2 linked regions of the Homo sapiens genome follow. The protein of the gene in region 2 purifies or fractionates together with the protein of the main gene of each other region. This does not show direct contact. Each region holds a gene or a part of one and is shown on either strand. Other genes may lie near its edges.

Region 1 (3,526 bases), on a different chromosome or scaffold from region 2:
TACACCAGTAACATTTGACCTTTTCAGCTCCCTAGCTAATTTATTAGATTGTGTTGAAGGTCTGATTCTACAAAGGCCAACTCTACATATTTGGTAGCCCTAACTGTCTGAGCAGTAGTGGCTGCTGTGATGTAAACTTAGGGTGCTGAGATAAGCAATTAGCTCTAGCCTTCTGCCTTAAGAATGCACTCTACTGGGGATTTCCTGGCATAGTTAAGAGCGCTGCCTATAAGGTTGGTGACCAAATCTTTCCTCGGTGACTTTAAGCTTTATGTGAAAGCTTAGTTAAGGTGAGGAGGGGCACACTCCTAAATTGCTGGATGACTGAACTTTGGATTTTCTCTCCCCTTTCACATGGATTTCATGTCTCTTTAGATAAAACTGACTAGTTTTATTTATAAAATCTTAAGTTTTGGAAGTCTAAAGGAGAAACCATTCCAGTATGCATATTTTTTTCTCCTCTAGATTCATACATTTATATAGCATTGAAACACTTTCAAACTCCTGCTGGTAGTAAAAGGGGATTTAAAAATAGAATCATAGCCATAAGCCTGTTAGTATCATATGAAGAGAGAACAGTTATCTTAGTACCTATGGATTTTCTTTATTTGCTGTTTGAATGGATTGACCTTGGTTATGTGTTGAGAATTAAGGAACATTCTTTGAAATGCCTCTCTCAGACCCATCTTGGAGGCTGATTACTTACTGCACCAAAGCTATCACTGGGGTGAGATTTACTGTTTGGACAAATTTAGCCCCATCCCTTCAAAAATACACTTGTAACCAGGTTTCCCAGAGTTGTTGATAGGCTTCTGCTGAACATATGCCAACCCACCTGCATAATATATTTTTGTTGCTTTTATAAATCATGCATTACATAAAGTGTGACAACTTCAAAATGTATTCTCTGTTCTTGGAATACAGTGCCCTAAAATGGTGTTCTTATGACCTGCAGAAAATATTTACACATATTTCCAAATATTTATTTCATGAGCAGTACAGCTAATTAAAATATATAAGCTTAAATTTTATATCTTACATTTAAAATATTAAGATTCCTTTGACTTGCCATCCATATAAGCTTGCTAAAAATATTAAGACCAAGTCATGCAATAATTGAATGTACCTCAAATTTTTAGGGGAGGGTGGGTTAGGGACTGATACTCAGATTGTGGATAATAATTGAATTGGTTTTTAAAGGCAACATAGCATTCTACAGCAGGGTTAATCTATTATCAAGAACAGTCACCCTGGTTAATAACAAGTTTTACTGATCAGTTGCTGGTTGGTTGGTTGGTTGGCATGTGGGTGTGTGGGTGTATAGGTGTGTGTGGGTGTGTGTGTGTATTTTTCCCCATGAGTCCTTTTTTTAATCCTGTGGCTTTTTCACTTACAACTAGCCTAACCCTGTAATTTTCCTACATCCAAGAAAACAATCACAAAGTAGTGGTTTAAATACTTTGTTGTATTTGGCTAATTTTGCTGTCTTAATGCAGCCTATTAAGAGTTGGGTTAAAAATCAGTAATCAGTACTTTATTACATCACTGAACTAAAATATGGAGACATCCTCATTGAAAATGGAGGGCACTCTATCAGTCTATAACTATCAACGTAGTGCAACAGGGTGTTTTGATACCTTTGTTTTCACCTCTTGACATAATGCTATTTAAAGGCTTGAATTTTTCCCTTTATATAATTTTCACCTTTACTTTCAAAGTGTTTTGTTGTAGTTGGCTATTGCAGAGAGTGCATTGTCCTATCATTCCTAAACCTGGTCTGCTTTCTACATTCATGGTATGGAAACCATGTGATTCTTTGTACAGTTTATCCTGATGTTGCTTGTAATGCAGTAGAGGCTATTTCGCCTTCGCTTTTCTTTCTCGACCTTTTTGTAAACCCTATAATTATGAAGCGATTGCTTGAGAAAATAACATATAAACATAGAATAGAATAGACTGACCAAGATGGTTCACAGTTTCTTTTTTTAACTAGGTTATTTATAATGTATTTCTGAACCACTTGGCAGACAAATTCACAACACTTAATGTTCATATTTTGAGTAAAGGAAGCTAAAACCATGTTTGCTTTCTGGTACTACATGCATTAGCGAAAGGTTAAGTAAGTTTTGTTCTCCACTGAAGTAATACTTAACATCTCAGAAAAAATTTTGCATGTTCTGTAGTTTTGTATTAAATCAGTCATTTCATATGCACTATATCAAGTACAAACAGGTAGTTTACCTGTTTATAGTAGTGTACTAACAAAGTCTCCCTTGCAGCTTCAGACTGTTATCTATAGGCTTATCGTTCAAATACAGCACTTGAATATCCCAAGTAGTTCTTCTACGCATAGCTCACCTTTCTAAACCCAGTTAAGCATGGAAGAGAGGTAGTAGGTAGGTGCAGTGTGTGGAAGCTGCAAACAAGTAGGCCTTTTATTCATTGATATCTTTTCCCAAGTACTGGATTTTAAATCTGTATGTATCTGTTTGATTTTTTTTTCTAATATTTCAGTTGAGCTGCTGTTTTCTTCCATGCAATATTGTATACTCAATTGTGTATAGAAGAAGCTGGTGAGAGTGCCCTCCTACATAAATAAGCAATTGCAGTGTTTTGCATGCAAAATATAAAAAATTTAAATTGTCCTGATTCTATTTTGTAAATGGAGAAACAATCATATCTTTCTAAGCGGTAATGGAGGAAGACTAGTGCTTTGTGCATTTTGATATATTTGAGTTCATTTTTTCCACAATGTCATACTTTTGACGCAGTTGGGTTTCTCATAAGTATCCTAGTTCATGTACATCCGAATGCTAAATAATACTGTGTTTTAAGTTTTGTGTTGCAAGAACAAATGGAATAAACTTGAATTGTGCTACAGCTAATGTGTCAGCAGCATTTTTCTCAGTTATTATCACCTTCCTTTTGTAGTCATCTCTACAACTATACCAGAAGCTTGATTGACTCAAACATTTAGTTAATCTTATCCCACTTCTAGAAAAAAATGAGTGGAGGGAAAATAAAACATAAAGATTTAATTGAAATAAACCTTACCAGTCTTTGAAAGGATTTGCTTTTGTGTCAGTCTCCTGACATTGTTTTACTGTAACTTCAGTAACGCTCCTGGTTGACGGGGAGCAGGGTGTAGCCAGCACATCCCAGATCGTCAGGATCTTCAGGGGGCTTGAAGAAAATGGAGTCGTGGTTAAACCTCTGATCCTTTCATTGCTCATCTAAGTTGCTCCACATTTCTTGGAGATCTGCATTTCCCAAACTCAACTACGAGCACTTTTTTAGAGTGTAATTTTCAGGATGAGTGATCACTTTGAACCTTAAAACTGAACAAAATTAAATACAAAATCAGTTTGATTGTGTTGTAATCTTGTTAGCACCAGAAGACTATTGCAGTTTACTTTTAGTGATAGAAAAAAAATATATATGTGCAGATACTAAGTTACAGCAAAAGCTGTATTTTAGAACTTTCACATTGTTGACTGAAGTATAAATGGGGACCATGTACGGCTTT
Region 2 (3,500 bases):
GAACATTCTTTTGGAAGGCTCTCATTCAATATTTAACCACAATCTGACATCGCCCCATCCATATATATTTCCTTTAATCTTTTTGAGAAGAGATGGCCTGATCAGGTTTATATCCTCAGAATGCATCTCTATTTTGACATCCATGCTCAGGTCTCTCTGCAAGAGTACTGATCTGGTTTTAATTAGCATGTATCCATCTATCTATTCACAAATGTTTCCTGTACACCTGCTATATGCCAGGTGCTAAGCATCAAAGAATATATATACGTATCAAGCTCTTGTCAGAAAGGTTTAATCTTGAACTGTCAAACTAAGAGATGATATTTATGGACGAGTACAGTTCAGTATTCTTAGAGTTATCTAAATTTTTATCTCTTAAAAAAAAACTTTTATTCGGCCAGTCACAGTGGCTCACACCTGTAATCCCAGCACTTTGGGAGGCTGAGACAGGCGGATCACTTAAGGTTGGGAGTTTGAGACCAGCCTGGGCAACATGGCGAAATCCCCACCTCTACTAAAAATACGAAAATTTGCTGGGCATGGTGGCAGGCACCTGTAATCCCAGCTACTCAGGAGGCTGAGACAGGGAGAATTGCTTGAACCCAGGAGATGGAGGTTGCAGTGAGCCGAGATTGTGCCACTGCACTCCAGTCTGGGAGACAGAGCAAGACTCCATCTCAAAAAAATAAAATAAAATAAAATTCCAGTAGAGTCCTCAGAGAAATAAATTTTATCTTTTAACTAAACCACAACAGTGAGTTAAGATTAAATCATTGTGCCGCTATGTGAAACTGATTTTACCAAACTGTTTTGGCATCAGGCCAATGATCTGTATTGAGAAACATAAAAAACAGTACCAGGAGATAATAGTTCATACTTAGAGTACTCAGAGTCATTTAGCCAGACACCATGCTAAACACTTTGCATGCATTAATTCATTCAACCCTCACAATCAAATCCCATGTAGAAAGTACCGTTATTACTCTCATTTGACAGAGGAGGACACAGCTGACAGGAGGGTTAAGTAACTTAATTAAGGCCACACAGTGGTAGAAGCAGGATGTTAACCCAGGGAAACTGACTCCTGAGCTCTTATTCTTAGTAACTATGTTACACTGCCATTATTCATCAAGTAAGGATGTTGAGGTCTTTGTTCATTATATCCTTTCACGTTTTCTCTTTTTTAAAAAAACAGGGTCTCACTTTGTTCCCCCTAGCTGGTATGCAGTCAGTGGCGTGATCACAGCTCGCTGCAGCCACAACCTTGCCAGGCTCAGGTGATCCTCCCCTCCCACCTCAGCTCCTGAGTAGCTGGGACCACAGGCATGCACTACCATGCCCAGCTAATTTTTGTATTTTTTGTAGAGACAGGGTTTCACCATGTTGCCCAGGCTGTTTGTGAACTCCTGGGCATAAGCTATCCATCCACCTCAGCCTTCCAAAGTGCTGGGATTACAGGCGTAATCCACTGGGCCTGGCCTAATGTTTTCTTAATACTTCTCAGGAGAAATTTTAATACTAGGAATAGGAATGGCTCCTCAGCAATTGATTTGTTCTCATCTTCTAACAAGGAATAATGTAACTGAATAGTCTTTTTCTTTGAACTAGGTGCACTTAGAGCTAGATTTAGCACATCTACTATAGACTTATGGTATGCATTTTTGGCTATCATACTTCTAACTTGAAATGATTATCTCCTTATTAAACCAATTTATTTATTTCCATCTATTTCCTTATTTTTAAACAGTATTATGTTAATCTTTGTAAGCCAAACCCTTTGTAGGATAAGGCTTGGTATAAACAATAACTTGAATCCAACAAAACAGTTTATAAGGATCCAGATCCTTAAAAAGCTGTCTAGATTTATTTTATTACATACCAAAGATGCTACTTTAATATTAGCAGTTTTAACACATGATCAGAAAATCAAAGTCAAGTGAAAGAACAATCAGTATCCAGAAAATTTTTTAATAGATCCTTAAATATTCTTAATTCTTCTGAAGAACTCTGTTCTTCATGGCATGACACATACTGTAAGTTCTTCACTAACAGAATGAACATGACTGAATATGACTATCTGAACCCCATTAAAGAAATTAAGTACCTGACTTCAAGGGCTTTGATAGCTTCTAGCATTTGTAGAAACTCTGCTGCTTTCCATACATCATTGGCTTCTTCTTCTCCTTGTATCATTAATTTTGCTGTATATGTGAACTCAATTAAATGGCGAAAGGCCATTTTACTAACACCTGTAAAGAAGATGTACATTAGAGCATGTAATCATATTGACTCAAATCTTACAATGTTTAGTAAAGAAAGAAAAGCCCAGGGCTTGGAGCTTGTTGAGTATTTATTTTTGAAAACTATTTTCTGGAAAAATTCTCATTAGCAATACAATAATATTACAGCCAAATTTCAGCACTACCTAGCTGGAAAATCTTAAACTACTTTAAATTTCCTGAGGCTCTTGGAGAACAGTAAGATTCTATCACTCAAATATATGAATTGGCTATTACATGTCAGACATGCTACATTTCTTGCCAGGGAGATTACAGCTGTGCCAACTCAGCTCCAAAATCTTCAATAGCTTTTCACAACTTAGCAAACAAAATTTAGTACCTCTCTGACTTTATTTCAAGGCCCTTCACATTATTTTCCTATTTACCTTTCCAAATTTTAAACGACATCACACACACACTATATACTATTTCTCAAACAAACCCTGCACTTTCTAATAGCTGACTTGCCTTTATTTATTTATTTTGAGATGGAGTTTCACTCTTGTTGCCCAGGCTGGAGTGCAATACAGTGATCTTGGCTCACAACCTCTGCCTCCCAGATTCAAGAGATTCTCCTGTCTCAACCTCCCGAGCTGCTGGGATTACAGGCATGTACCACCACGCCTGGCTAATTTTGAATTTTTAGTAGAGATGGGGTTTCCCCATGTTGGTCAGGCTGGTCTCAAACTCCCGACCTCAAGTGATCTGCCCGATCAGCCTCCCAAAGTGCTGGGATTACAGGCGTGAGCCACCGCACCCAGCCTGACTTGCCTTTATTAACACCCTCCTAGTTGGATGCTTAATCATTTCATCTCTGGTTATACTCATCCTACCACCCACCCCTTAAAGGTCCAACTCTAATGTCACATGTTCAATGAAACCTTTTAACATTTATTGTAATAAGAACATGAGATCTACCCACTTAACACATTTTTAAGTGTACACTATTGTTGACTCTAGGTACAATGTTGTACAGACCTCCAGTTTATTCATCTTGCGCAATTGAAACTTTATGCCCACTGATTAGTAACTGCCCATTTCCTCCTCCCTCCCAGCCCCTAGCAACCCGTATTCCACTCTTTCAATCTATTTGAGATAGCTCATATGAGTGGAAGTGACTATTTTAGATTCCTCATATAAATAGAAATATGCAGTTTATGTCTGTGACTGGCTTACTTCACTTAGCATAATGTCCTCAAGGTTCATCCATGTGGTTGCATA

The links.
Region 1: the proteins of ZNF131 (region 2) and MTPN purify together in Homo sapiens (affinity purification with mass spectrometry, with the first as the bait; one large-scale study listed by BioGRID). This does not show direct contact.

The regions. Positions count from the first base shown.
Region 1 is NC_000007.14:135,926,114-135,929,639, reverse strand, and holds the end of MTPN (myotrophin), read left to right. Parts: 3' UTR 1-2,880; downstream 2,881-3,526. UniProt on the Homo sapiens protein: Promotes dimerization of NF-kappa-B subunits and regulates NF-kappa-B transcription factor activity. Plays a role in the regulation of the growth of actin filaments.
Region 2 is NC_000005.10:43,137,914-43,141,413, reverse strand, and holds part of ZNF131 (zinc finger protein 131), read right to left. Parts: intron 2,250-3,500; coding exon 2,105-2,249; intron 1-2,104. UniProt on the Homo sapiens protein: Plays a role during development and organogenesis as well as in the function of the adult central nervous system. May be involved in transcriptional regulation as a repressor of ESR1/ER-alpha signaling.